Linked DNA regions of Homo sapiens: region 1 is linked to region 2. Evidence: fine-mapped expression QTL. A gene starts in region 2. The other region holds a variant in brackets. All regions are shown on one strand. Distances are from middle to middle. Region 1 overlaps AMPH (amphiphysin). Region 2 holds the start of TRG-AS1 (T cell receptor gamma locus antisense RNA 1).

What was found. PIP is the estimated chance that this variant, and not a neighbour inherited with it, causes the effect.
Region 1: its variant is fine-mapped to the expression of TRG-AS1 in whole blood (INTERVAL, PIP 0.92).

What each region holds. Positions count from the first base shown.
Region 1 is chr7:38,432,571-38,437,570 of GRCh38, forward strand. It overlaps AMPH (amphiphysin), which reads right to left. Exons shown (of 21, transcript NM_001635.4): 12 at 3,702-3,818. Among named protein-coding and RNA genes, the nearest start is that of TRG-AS1, 94 kb to the left of the region's middle. RefSeq lists a silencer at 1,430-1,648. The variant G/A (reference allele first, on the strand shown) is at 1,954.
Region 2 is chr7:38,339,072-38,344,605 of GRCh38, forward strand. It overlaps TRG-AS1 (T cell receptor gamma locus antisense RNA 1), which reads left to right and starts at 2,350. Exons shown (of 4, transcript NR_040085.2): 1 at 2,350-2,728. It also overlaps TRG and the pseudogene TRGV6.

The DNA.
Region 1 (5,000 bases), 93 kb after region 2:
AATGAGGTTATTTTAATACACACACACACACACACACACACACACACACACACCTCATTAAAATGAAGTAAACAAGGTGTCCAAATTTTAGAGCTTGTCACATCTTTGAGGAAATGCAGGCCCTAATCACTGCTAATGCTATTTCCTTCCCATCTCATTCAAGAGGATGTAGGATGACCAGCTTAATGGTAAATGAGCCCCAGAAAAATAGTTCTTCAATATGTTAAATTAGATGATAACACACTGCTCAATGAATTGGTAATCATACAAATTGGCAGAGCACCCCCTAAGACATGAATGAATTACACTTACTACTGGTATTTTAATTATAAAGCTTATGAATCCCGGGGAGTGAGGCCAGATGGTTCAAATGGCTTCCACTATGGGTGAGGGGAGCAGGGAAGACTTCTCTTTCTTATTTCCTTTATGATTGAGAATTGCTGCTAAAGCCACATCCGATTATGCCCATGTCTTTGTGACTAGAATGGATCCACGTTTATGCACTTATTTTGAACTACTAAATGTCAACAGCAAACTAGAGAGCCTGGCATTGCCACCTTAAAAATATGATGGTTTTCGGTTGAGATTGCAGAGGCCTCATTTGGGCTCCGTATTATAGAAAGCAGGCCCTGTGGTTCTGATACCCACCCACCTGGTTGGGTCCCATTCTAACCGTTCTGCATGGCCTGCCTTGCATCTCCATGCAGCCTGCCTGGTCTCTTGCTTAGCATTTTCTCGTAGGATGACTAAGACAGGAGAGAACAGCTCCATGGAAAGCCACAGTTTTTTGTACATGGATCTAATATATGTTTTCTGATTATCTAGATGATTCTCATTTCATTGCTTCATAGCCACTTAAGAATCAAAGATCATGGCCGGGCGCGGTGGCTCACGCCTGTAATCCCAGCACTTTGGGAGGCCGAGGCGGGCGGATCACGAGGTCAGGAGATCGAGACCATCCCGGCTAAAACGGTGAAACCCCGTCTCTACTAAAAATACAAAAAATTAGCCGGGCGTAGTGGCGGGCGCCTGTAGTCCCAGCTACTTGGGAGGCTGAGGCAGGAGAATGGCATGAACCCGGGAGGCGGAGCTTGCAGTGAGCCGAGATCCTGCCACTGCACTCCAGCCTGGGCAACAGAGCGAGACTCCGTCTCAAAAAAAAAAAAAAAAAAAAAAGAATCAAAGATCATAAAAGCTAGTGCATGTCTCTGTATAATGCACACATCACCAGTTATTTTCTTTAAAAGGAAGGCAGGAAATATGAAATGTCATGTTTATCAGTCCTCAGGATCATGAAAGGATGCGTTAGCGTGCACAGATACTGCAGAGATCACAAGATGAGGTGTTCTGCTAGCAGCAAGAACACCACTTGAAAACATGGGGTCAGGTGATGGGTAAAGGAGGTCATTTTGAGTGAAGAGGAAAGAAACCAGGCAGACCTAACAGTGCTATGCTTTTTTTGTCATTCAGTCAAGACTTTTGTTCTTAGCAAAAGAGGAGAGGTATGATCAAAGCTGGACTGCAGGACAACTATAGTGTAATGACTCAGTTATGGCCACCAGGAGGCTAGAGGGTTTTATTACCTGGCCCTGAGGAAGAGCACAGGGACACACACAGCTTGCCGTCACTGCGGTGATATATGTCCTTCAGAACTAAAACTTTTGAAGATTAAACCAAGGTCATTTTTGTTTAATTTTGAAGAATCTCTTAGTCATAAGGCCACACACAGTTTCATGATTTATGGATTAATGTAATCATGAATTAACATAAAAGAGGTTTCTCTCCTGATTCAAACTTGTAGACAGAAATGCTATGAAATCTCACCCACTAATCATTCCAGCATCCACTGCAGAAACTTTGCATCTGCCACAAAAGAAATGAAGCATGGGCCGGGCATGGTGGCTCATGCCTGTAATCCCAGCACTTTGGGAGGCCGAGGTGGGCAGATCACGC[G/A]GTCAGGAGATCGAGACCATCCTGGCAAACATGGTGAAACCCCACCTCTACTAAAAATACAAAAAATTAGCCAGTCGTGGTGGCAGGCGCCTGTAGTCCCAACTACTCGGGAGGCTGAGGCAGGAGAATGGCGTGAACCAGGGAGGTGAAGCTTGCAGTGAGCCAAGATCGCACCACTGCACTCCAGCCTGGGCATCAGAGTAAGACTCCATCTCAAAGAAAAAAAAAAAAAAAGAAGCATGGAGAGTAAGGCAGAGGAAATCCTGTGAATTCTGCAGGCTGTCTATATAATGAGAAATCTCTGAGAAGGAAGTATATTCAATTATATGTACATTCACTTTGTACTTTTCTTGGTCACCAAGGTGGAACCCTCAAACTTGTTGACAATACTTTAGCATTTCTCAAAATATTGTTTTAGAGAACATTCCAATGAATATTAAGAAAAGTGTAGTTAACATAGATTTCTGTGGTCAAACAAATTTGGGAAACTCTAAGTTAAACAAATATAAACAGTTTTTTTAAATTGCAGAACTTCTCAGCCTTTAATATTCTAATGCACATCATGAATCTTCTAGAAGAGAGTTAATACAGGAGGCTTCCTGGAACTTTCACCTAAGAGACCCTTTTGTTTTTTGCAAAGCATCTTCAAGGCTAGTGTTTAGACTATTAATTTCTTACTTTATTAACACCTTGGACATTTATTGTTCATATTGCACAACAGGAAAGCCTTTAGAAGCCCAATCACATTCTAGAAAAAAGCATGGACTAGACATAATCCTTATTTATTAAGGTTCATATTGAGCCATTTATTCCCTAGCAGTTTACTGTGATATACCAAGAAGGCTTCAAGGCCAGGGAATCAAGCTAGGTCTTAATTCCTAGGTTGAATGTTACAATATTCTTGTACTAATTCATTTGAAGCATACTCTAGCAACTTTGGATTTGCCTAAATTCATATGTGGGGCTCCAACCATATGCAAAGTACTTATATAAACAGTTTCTGTTTTGTCAAATTTTGAGTTAACTTCCTTCTATTAGCACAGACAGTTGTAAACTAACTATATTTCAGAGGACCTACCCACAGGTCATTATGGCACCTACCACCAGTATCCTCTGACAGAGAATGTAATGACAGTTACTATAAGAAAGGAAGAAATATGGAGTGTGAGGGAGTGGTGAGCAAAAAGGCTTGGGGAAGCAAGGCGACTCTCCATCAAACCATAACCATGATCACAGGAGGGGAGCTTCTTCAATGGGGAGGATGAACACAGCATCATCAAGTTCAGAACGATCAACACTGAAAACGGCTTCTGCTGGCCCGTGCTTTCATGGTCATTGCAAACACACTTTAACTTGCAAAGTATGAGGAAGGGAAGTAGAGAAAAGAGCAAGAAGAGTAAACCCAAAACCAAAAGAAAGAGCTTCATCCAGGGAAACCATAAAATGTATCCTGTAAACCTGAACAGTTCTGAGTGCAACGTGGGCACTGGTAACAATTACTCTGGGGGAGAAAACAGGAATGTATGGTTATGCCAGCTCTATGGGTAGAGAAAGCTGATGGCATGGGAGTCTTAGAATAACTGATATAGATAAGGTCCCCTTTCTACCCCTCTTTCCTATTAGGAAATATCTGTCAACCAAAAATAAAAATAGATAGTAGTCATGAAAGGTATAGGGATCATTGGTTACCACACTGAGCTTACTGAGGTTTATGAAATATCTCCAAACATCCAAAAAGCACCTGATACCTGAGACATGGGTGAGTGGGTCACTCCAGCAGAACCTGCAGGTGTCACCTCGGGCTTGAAAGGATCAAAGTCCAGATCCAGCAAAGTCTCCTCTTTCTTCACCTCAGGGACTTCATTCTGTTAAAGCAAACAACAAAACAAAATAAAACATGTATTAGCTTGAATCTGATAAGACCATGATATAGCCCATGTATACTCTCTCTAATATTATTATTGAGTATCTCCAAAACACACTTTTATAAGCATGGTGGCTCACCCATATGCACCCAGTCACTCAGCTAAATGCAGTGAGAAGGAAATAACTAACTCTGGCCAAGTATAACCTAAGTTGCCCTGGAATGTGTCCCAGGCTCTAGCTCTTGTCCTTTGTCTAGCTCCAAGTCCAGTCAACAGAGAGAATGTTCCAAGGATGTATCCTAATATACCAAGATGCAAGGAGTCTCCTCTGTCAGCTCAGAGAACTTGGATCAAGAAATTACAGATGACCCAATCGATAAAATGGGCCAAGATCTGGACTCATTATAGCAATACTGCTGATGTTCTTCTGGGAAGCTAAAATTTTAAAAGGAAGGTGCCATTGTGTACTGCTGACCACATCCCAACGGCCTCATTCCCTCACTGGTACCCTACCCCTTGATTTGGTTATCATTTGATCCAGTCTTCATCCATAGCATTGTTAGTTTCAATTGTGTATGTGTATGAGTGAGGGTGAACGGGAGGGAGAGAGGAGAGAGACAGCCATGCCTCCCAACATTTGCTGCAAAATGAGCTCCCATTAATAATATTTTTGGATTAGAAAGAAGGTAAGCCAAATAAGACACAGGACGAAAGTCCTGCTTTGATAATACAAAAAAATCTATAATACTAAACATTATCATTTGTTCATTTATTTGTGGTATCATAATACATGAAAACAATGTGGGCTTGAAGTCAGCATAACCCAGGCTCAAGTTACACAGTAAAGGGCCAGGCTAAGACAAAGTCCCATAAAGTACATCACAGAAAAGGGAGTTGGGGTCAGTTTTCATACAATTTAAATTACATGTGTTTAGCATTCAATATAAAATTCTTTTTAAAAAAACTTTGTTGCCTAGAAATTGAAACGTCAAACCAATGGGTAAAGTATACATAAAAACAGATTTTTGGAGACAGATTTTTGAAGAATAGGAGTTATTCTAATTAATATTCATCACAGACATTAAAAACTGAGAAATGTATGAAAAGTGAGGGCCAGACACAGTGGCTCATGCCTGTAATCCCAGCACTTTGGGAGGCCGAGGTGGGCAGATCAGGAGGTGA
Region 2 (5,534 bases):
TATCATTAGCATATTATTATTACTACGGTAATTATTGTATTAAAATTCCCAATAGATCAGAGATGCCATCATTAAATAGTCTATGAATAAAAGCATTCAAATAAATGATATGGACTTCTTTATTCATACTTATGAAGTGTATGCACTTTTAGAGGCAAGACACAAAATCTAGACACTGGAAGATAAAAGATTGATTAAAATGTATAAAACCTTATCAGAATGAAAATATAAATATGACGGTCAAATAGAAACAATATATACTGCACTATGACAAACAAAAGACTTTTCTGTAATACTGAAAGACTTGTTCTGAATAAGAAAAAGTGAAAAAGTTCAACTGAACTGATAAAAATATTGTTACCTATAGGGTCAGGGAGAGAAGAGGAAAGAGAAATCCAGAATGGGGCCTGGTGAGGTTGCTCATGCCTGTAATCCCAGCACTTAGGGAGGCCGAGGCAGGGGGATCATCTGAGGTCAGGAGTTCGAGACCAGCCAGGCCAACATGAGGAAACCCTGTCTCTACCAAAAATACAAAAATTAGCTGGATGTGCTGGCGGGCACCTGAAATCCCAGCTACTTGGGAGGCTGAGGTAGGAGAATCTCTTGAACCCAGGAGGCGGAGGTTGCAGTGAGCCGAGATTGCTCCACTGCACTCCAGCCTGAGTGACAGACTGAGAATCCGTCTCAAAAAAAAAAAAAAAAAAAAAAGAGAGAGAAAAAGAAATCTAGAATGTAAGTTAAAATCTCCAAATGCATCTTCGTTAAAATTATGACTTTAGTTCCATGTAAATAGTTTACATATGCAAAACAAATATGAAACAAAACAAAATAATACAACAAATGTCTAAAATTTTAAAATGAAAACTGAACAAATAAACTAGCTATATCAATGTTGGCATGAACATGTAAAGAAAAATTATTTCAAATGATTTTGTTGAAAAAATATTCGGATTATGTACCCAAAAAGGAAAGAAAGAGAGAGAAAAGCAAGGAAGGAAGAAATGAAAAAAGGAAGGAAGGAAGGGAGGGAGAGAGGGAGGGAGGGAGGGAGGGAAGAAAAAATAATAAAAGCAAGCAAGGAAGTAAGAAAGGAGAGAGAATAAAAGGGAGGGCAGAGGGAGAGAGTGTTTAACTGCATATCTAGGCCTAGTGTTTTAGTGGTATTTATAATATTGCCTATATTGTTATAGACATAAGGAGTAAGCAGCACTCTCAGCTGCGATCTCTGGACCATGATTGGATACATGATTCAGTATAAATACCCTTCCCATTTGCTGTCCAAAATATCTCGCTTCACAGCTGGACCCTAAGAAACAGAGTGAGTGGGCCTCCCCCATGTCCTAGGAGAGCTGAGAAAACCTTGCTCTCAGCCAGGCTGCTTAGCTGAGGCTTAGCTGAGATGGCAGCTTAGTCTTCAGGAAAGTCCTGGGGGAGGGTGGGGAACAGGGTACAGCTGCTGACAGGAGAGTGTAATATTAGGGGGGAGATCAGGAGTTAAGCTGTTTCTCTTTGTACAGAATACAGTAAATTCAGGGCAGGAAATGAGAGGGGACGGCTCTCTCTTGTGTACCAGAAGCAGCCACAAGACAGATATTCAGTGTGGTGTAGAGCAGGTCTGAATCACTCTGCCTGTCCTAGGTGGCACAGTAATAGACCCCAGAGGCATTTTCATTTAGTTTTGGAGGTATAAATTTCCAGCTTATCCTTCTACTTCCATAAGTATCATGCTTTCCTGACTGACTCCTGATTCCAACATATCCCTGGAGTTGCAGATGTCATAGTACAGAAGATGCTGTGGGGCCTTCCCCTCCTGGCGTAGGTACCAGTGGATGTAGAAGGCATTTTCTACAGGAAGATCACAGGTGATTACAGCAGATGACCCCATCTGCCTGGTGCCTGACTTTATTTTCGCTTCCAAGTTAGTAGATATCTGACTGGCTGCAATGGGAACAACATAAAATATAATGAGGTATTCCTTAGTATGGCGTCCCTTGCTAAAGAAGAAAAATCCAAAACAAAACCCAACCTGTGAGCCTCTCTGTAGGCAGCACACTTACCAAGAGACAGGAAAGCTAGAAGCAGGGCTAGGGCCCACCACATGCCTTCGTCTCTGGGGTCTTGAAAGAAAGGGCCCAGATGAACAGGAGCAGAAGATCCTCTCAAAACTCAGGTCCCACTCAACAAGGAAGTGATCCCTAGCACAGAAGGCAGTGGGGAAGGCTGGTCTTCCTGAGTCACAAGCAGGGAGAAGTGACTGAGGATGTGTCTTAGGGGACTCCCACGCCTTCCTTCCAGAAGGGTGGTGCCTGGGAGGACCTGCAGAGGAGCTCCTGCCTCTCTGCTCAGGCCAGTTCTGCAGCACCCTCTGTGGCAGCTGAGAGCAGGCCCTCTGCAGAAGAGAGCCAGGGGCATGGAGAGTTCAGGCCTCCAGCAGAGGGAGTGCAGATATGGGGAAAGCTGACCCCTGGAGTCAGCAGGCCCAGCCCTAGGAGGGGGCAGTCCCACAGCAGGCTCACACCCTGCCCTTCAGAGTTGCAGCAGCTAATGCTGATGCCAGGACCTTGTCCTGCCAGGAAGCCTCTGATTAGGGCTGTGAACCAACTTCCTTTTCACATCTGCAAGGACACTTGGAGGCAACTGCCCAAGGCCACTCTGAGGAGGGTTGAATGTTCTTTATTAAAAGGACTGAGGATCATGTGTGTTGGTGGGCCTTGGACTCTGCTCTAAGGTAAATGTGTGTGTGTGTGGCGGGGGGCGGGGGGGGGGGTGCCTGTAATCCTGTGGGTGTGATCTCTTTATTAGACAATTTTTGTTCATTAAAGTAGGAGTGTAAGTTTGTTTGTTTGCTTGTTTGTTTTTAAAGTAGTACTGGGTGCCATGTCATGAAATATTTGGAACATACTTGAACTAAAAACTTGTTATATATCTGAACTTCCAAATTCCCTGGGTATTGTATATTTTATTTGTCATCCCTACCCTCAGAAAGCAGACTAATATCTGCAGTGCACCTGGATTCACAGATGGAAATAAGGGGACAAAACAAGTACAGTAATATAATTGTGAAAATTCAGTAGGGCATGCACAGATTACCACCACCTCTGTAAGAAGTATATAGAGACACATGTTTGAAATATGCATAATGAGATGTAGAACAATGTCTCTCTTGGTTGTTGTGTTGTCCTAGCTCAAATTTTGCAGTTTCTGCTGTCATCACAGCTGGGAATGAGAAAGGGAAGGGGCTCCAGTTGGTCTCCCTCTGCCTCTGGAGCACACGTGGAGGACATGAGGCTTCCGCAGGAACAGCTCTGAAAGCTGAGTTCTCGGGTCCCTGTGAAGGAGGGAAGCTTGCCTGCCTTGGAGCGTGAAAAAGTCTTGCTGGACAGAAGTCTCACGGTTTAAAACTGGGAAGGGAGAGGATTGAGATCACACTAGAATGCACAGAAAATTCTTAAAACAAAAAAATGAGAGAAACTTCATCAGAATGTGAAAAGAACTATAAAGCTACAGTGCTGAAGAGAGGGCAATACTGGCACTAGAATGAGAAGATTCATGGAACACAGTGGAAAATGCAGTAAGAGAGCTGCATGTATGTAATATTTTATCATGTGATAAAGTGATATATTAATATTCACAAGGAAATAGTCAATTATTTAATAAGTTCTCTTTTTGGTATTGACTTACTGTATGGAAACAAATATTGTTGCATTTCTACCTTACTAGTTACAAATAGTGATTTAGTTGTAATAAAATGAAAATCATTAGACTTAAACGATGATGAATTGCATAGAAGTTCTAGGTGAGATTGGCCTTTCTAAGCCTGGCATCAAACTAGACACCCTAGAAAAATGGACAGATATTATTTTATTTTTCAAAGTTCAATTCACCATAGGTGCCAAATGTAAATAATAACACATGAGGAGTAATATCTTCAACACATTGGATAAAGGGTCAGTATCTCTAAAATAGTATATATTAATTCTTACGAACCAATAAGAAAAAATTAATCCTCCAAAAGGAGAATAGGCAAAGAGTATCACAAGGCGATTCTCAAAAGAAGAACTATAAATGACCTATAACGTTGTCAAATATTGCTAGTACTCCTAAAGATGGGGGAATGCAAATCAAATTAACAAATCTCATTTTCAGAACCACAGAGCTTGGATTGCCATCATTATTAAATTAAAGTATATGACTTAGGGAATGTTAATTAACCCCCCAATTTCTTATGTTACATTCAACGGTACTTTAAACCCTTAATGAAGTTTCTGTGTAGATTAAATAAAATGTGCATGCAATGTGCTTAGTACATTAACTACCAGAATGTCAGCACCCATATGTACCATCAATATTATTATTATCATTATTCATTTTTTTGAGACAGAGTCTCACTCTATTGCCCAAACTGGACTGTAGTAGTGTGATATTAGCTCACTGAAACCTTCACCTTCCTGGCTCTAGAAATTCTCCTGCCTCAGCATCCAAAGTAGCTGGGATTACATGTGTGCGCCACAACAGCCGGCTAATTTTTTGTATATTTAGTAGAGACAGGGTTTCACCATGTTGGCTGAGCGGGTCCAAATCTCCCGGCCTAAGTGATCCTAATGACTGGACTGGCCAAATGCTGGGATTACATGCATGAGCCACCGGGCGTGGCCAGTATTATTGTTATTAATACAGTAATTATTGTATAAAAATTCCTGATGGATCAATGATGCCATCATTAAATAATCAACACATAAAAACATTCAAATAAATGATATGGACGTCTTTATGCATACTTATGAAGTATGTGCACCTTTAGAAGTAAGACACACAATCCAGACACAGGAAAATATAAGATTTATTAAAATGTATAAAAACCAAATATCAGAATGAAAATATAAATATGGCATTGAAATAGAAACAATACATACTCTGCTATGACAAACAGAGTGAAACAGCTCAAGTGAACTGACAAAAATATTGTTACCTGTAGTGTCAGGGAGAAAAGAGGAACAAGAAATCTACAATGGAAGCTAAAATCTTCAAATGCATCACCTTTTATGATTTTGACTTCAGTTCCATGTAAATATTTTATATATACAAAACAGATTTGAAACAAAACAAAGTAATACAACAAATTTCCAAAATGTAAAAATGAAAACTGAACAGTTAAACTAGCTGTATAAATGTTGGCATGAACAAATAGAGAAAAATTATTTCAAATGATTTTGTGGAAAAAGTATTCTCATTATGTACCCAAAAAGGAAAGAAAGAGAGAGAAAAACAAGGAAGGAAGGAGGAAAACAAGGAAGGAGAATGGATGGAAGGAAACAAGGGAGGAAGGGAGGAAAGGATGGATGGAGGGAGGGAGTTAGGGAGGGAGAGAAAAATAAAAACAAGCAAAGAAGTAAGAAAAAAGAGAGAGAGAATAAAAGGGAGGGCAGAGGGAGAGAATGTTCAACTGCATACCTAGGCCTAGTGTTTTAGTGGTCATTATACTATTGCTTATATTGTTATAGACATAAGGAATAAGCACCACTCTCAGCTGTGAT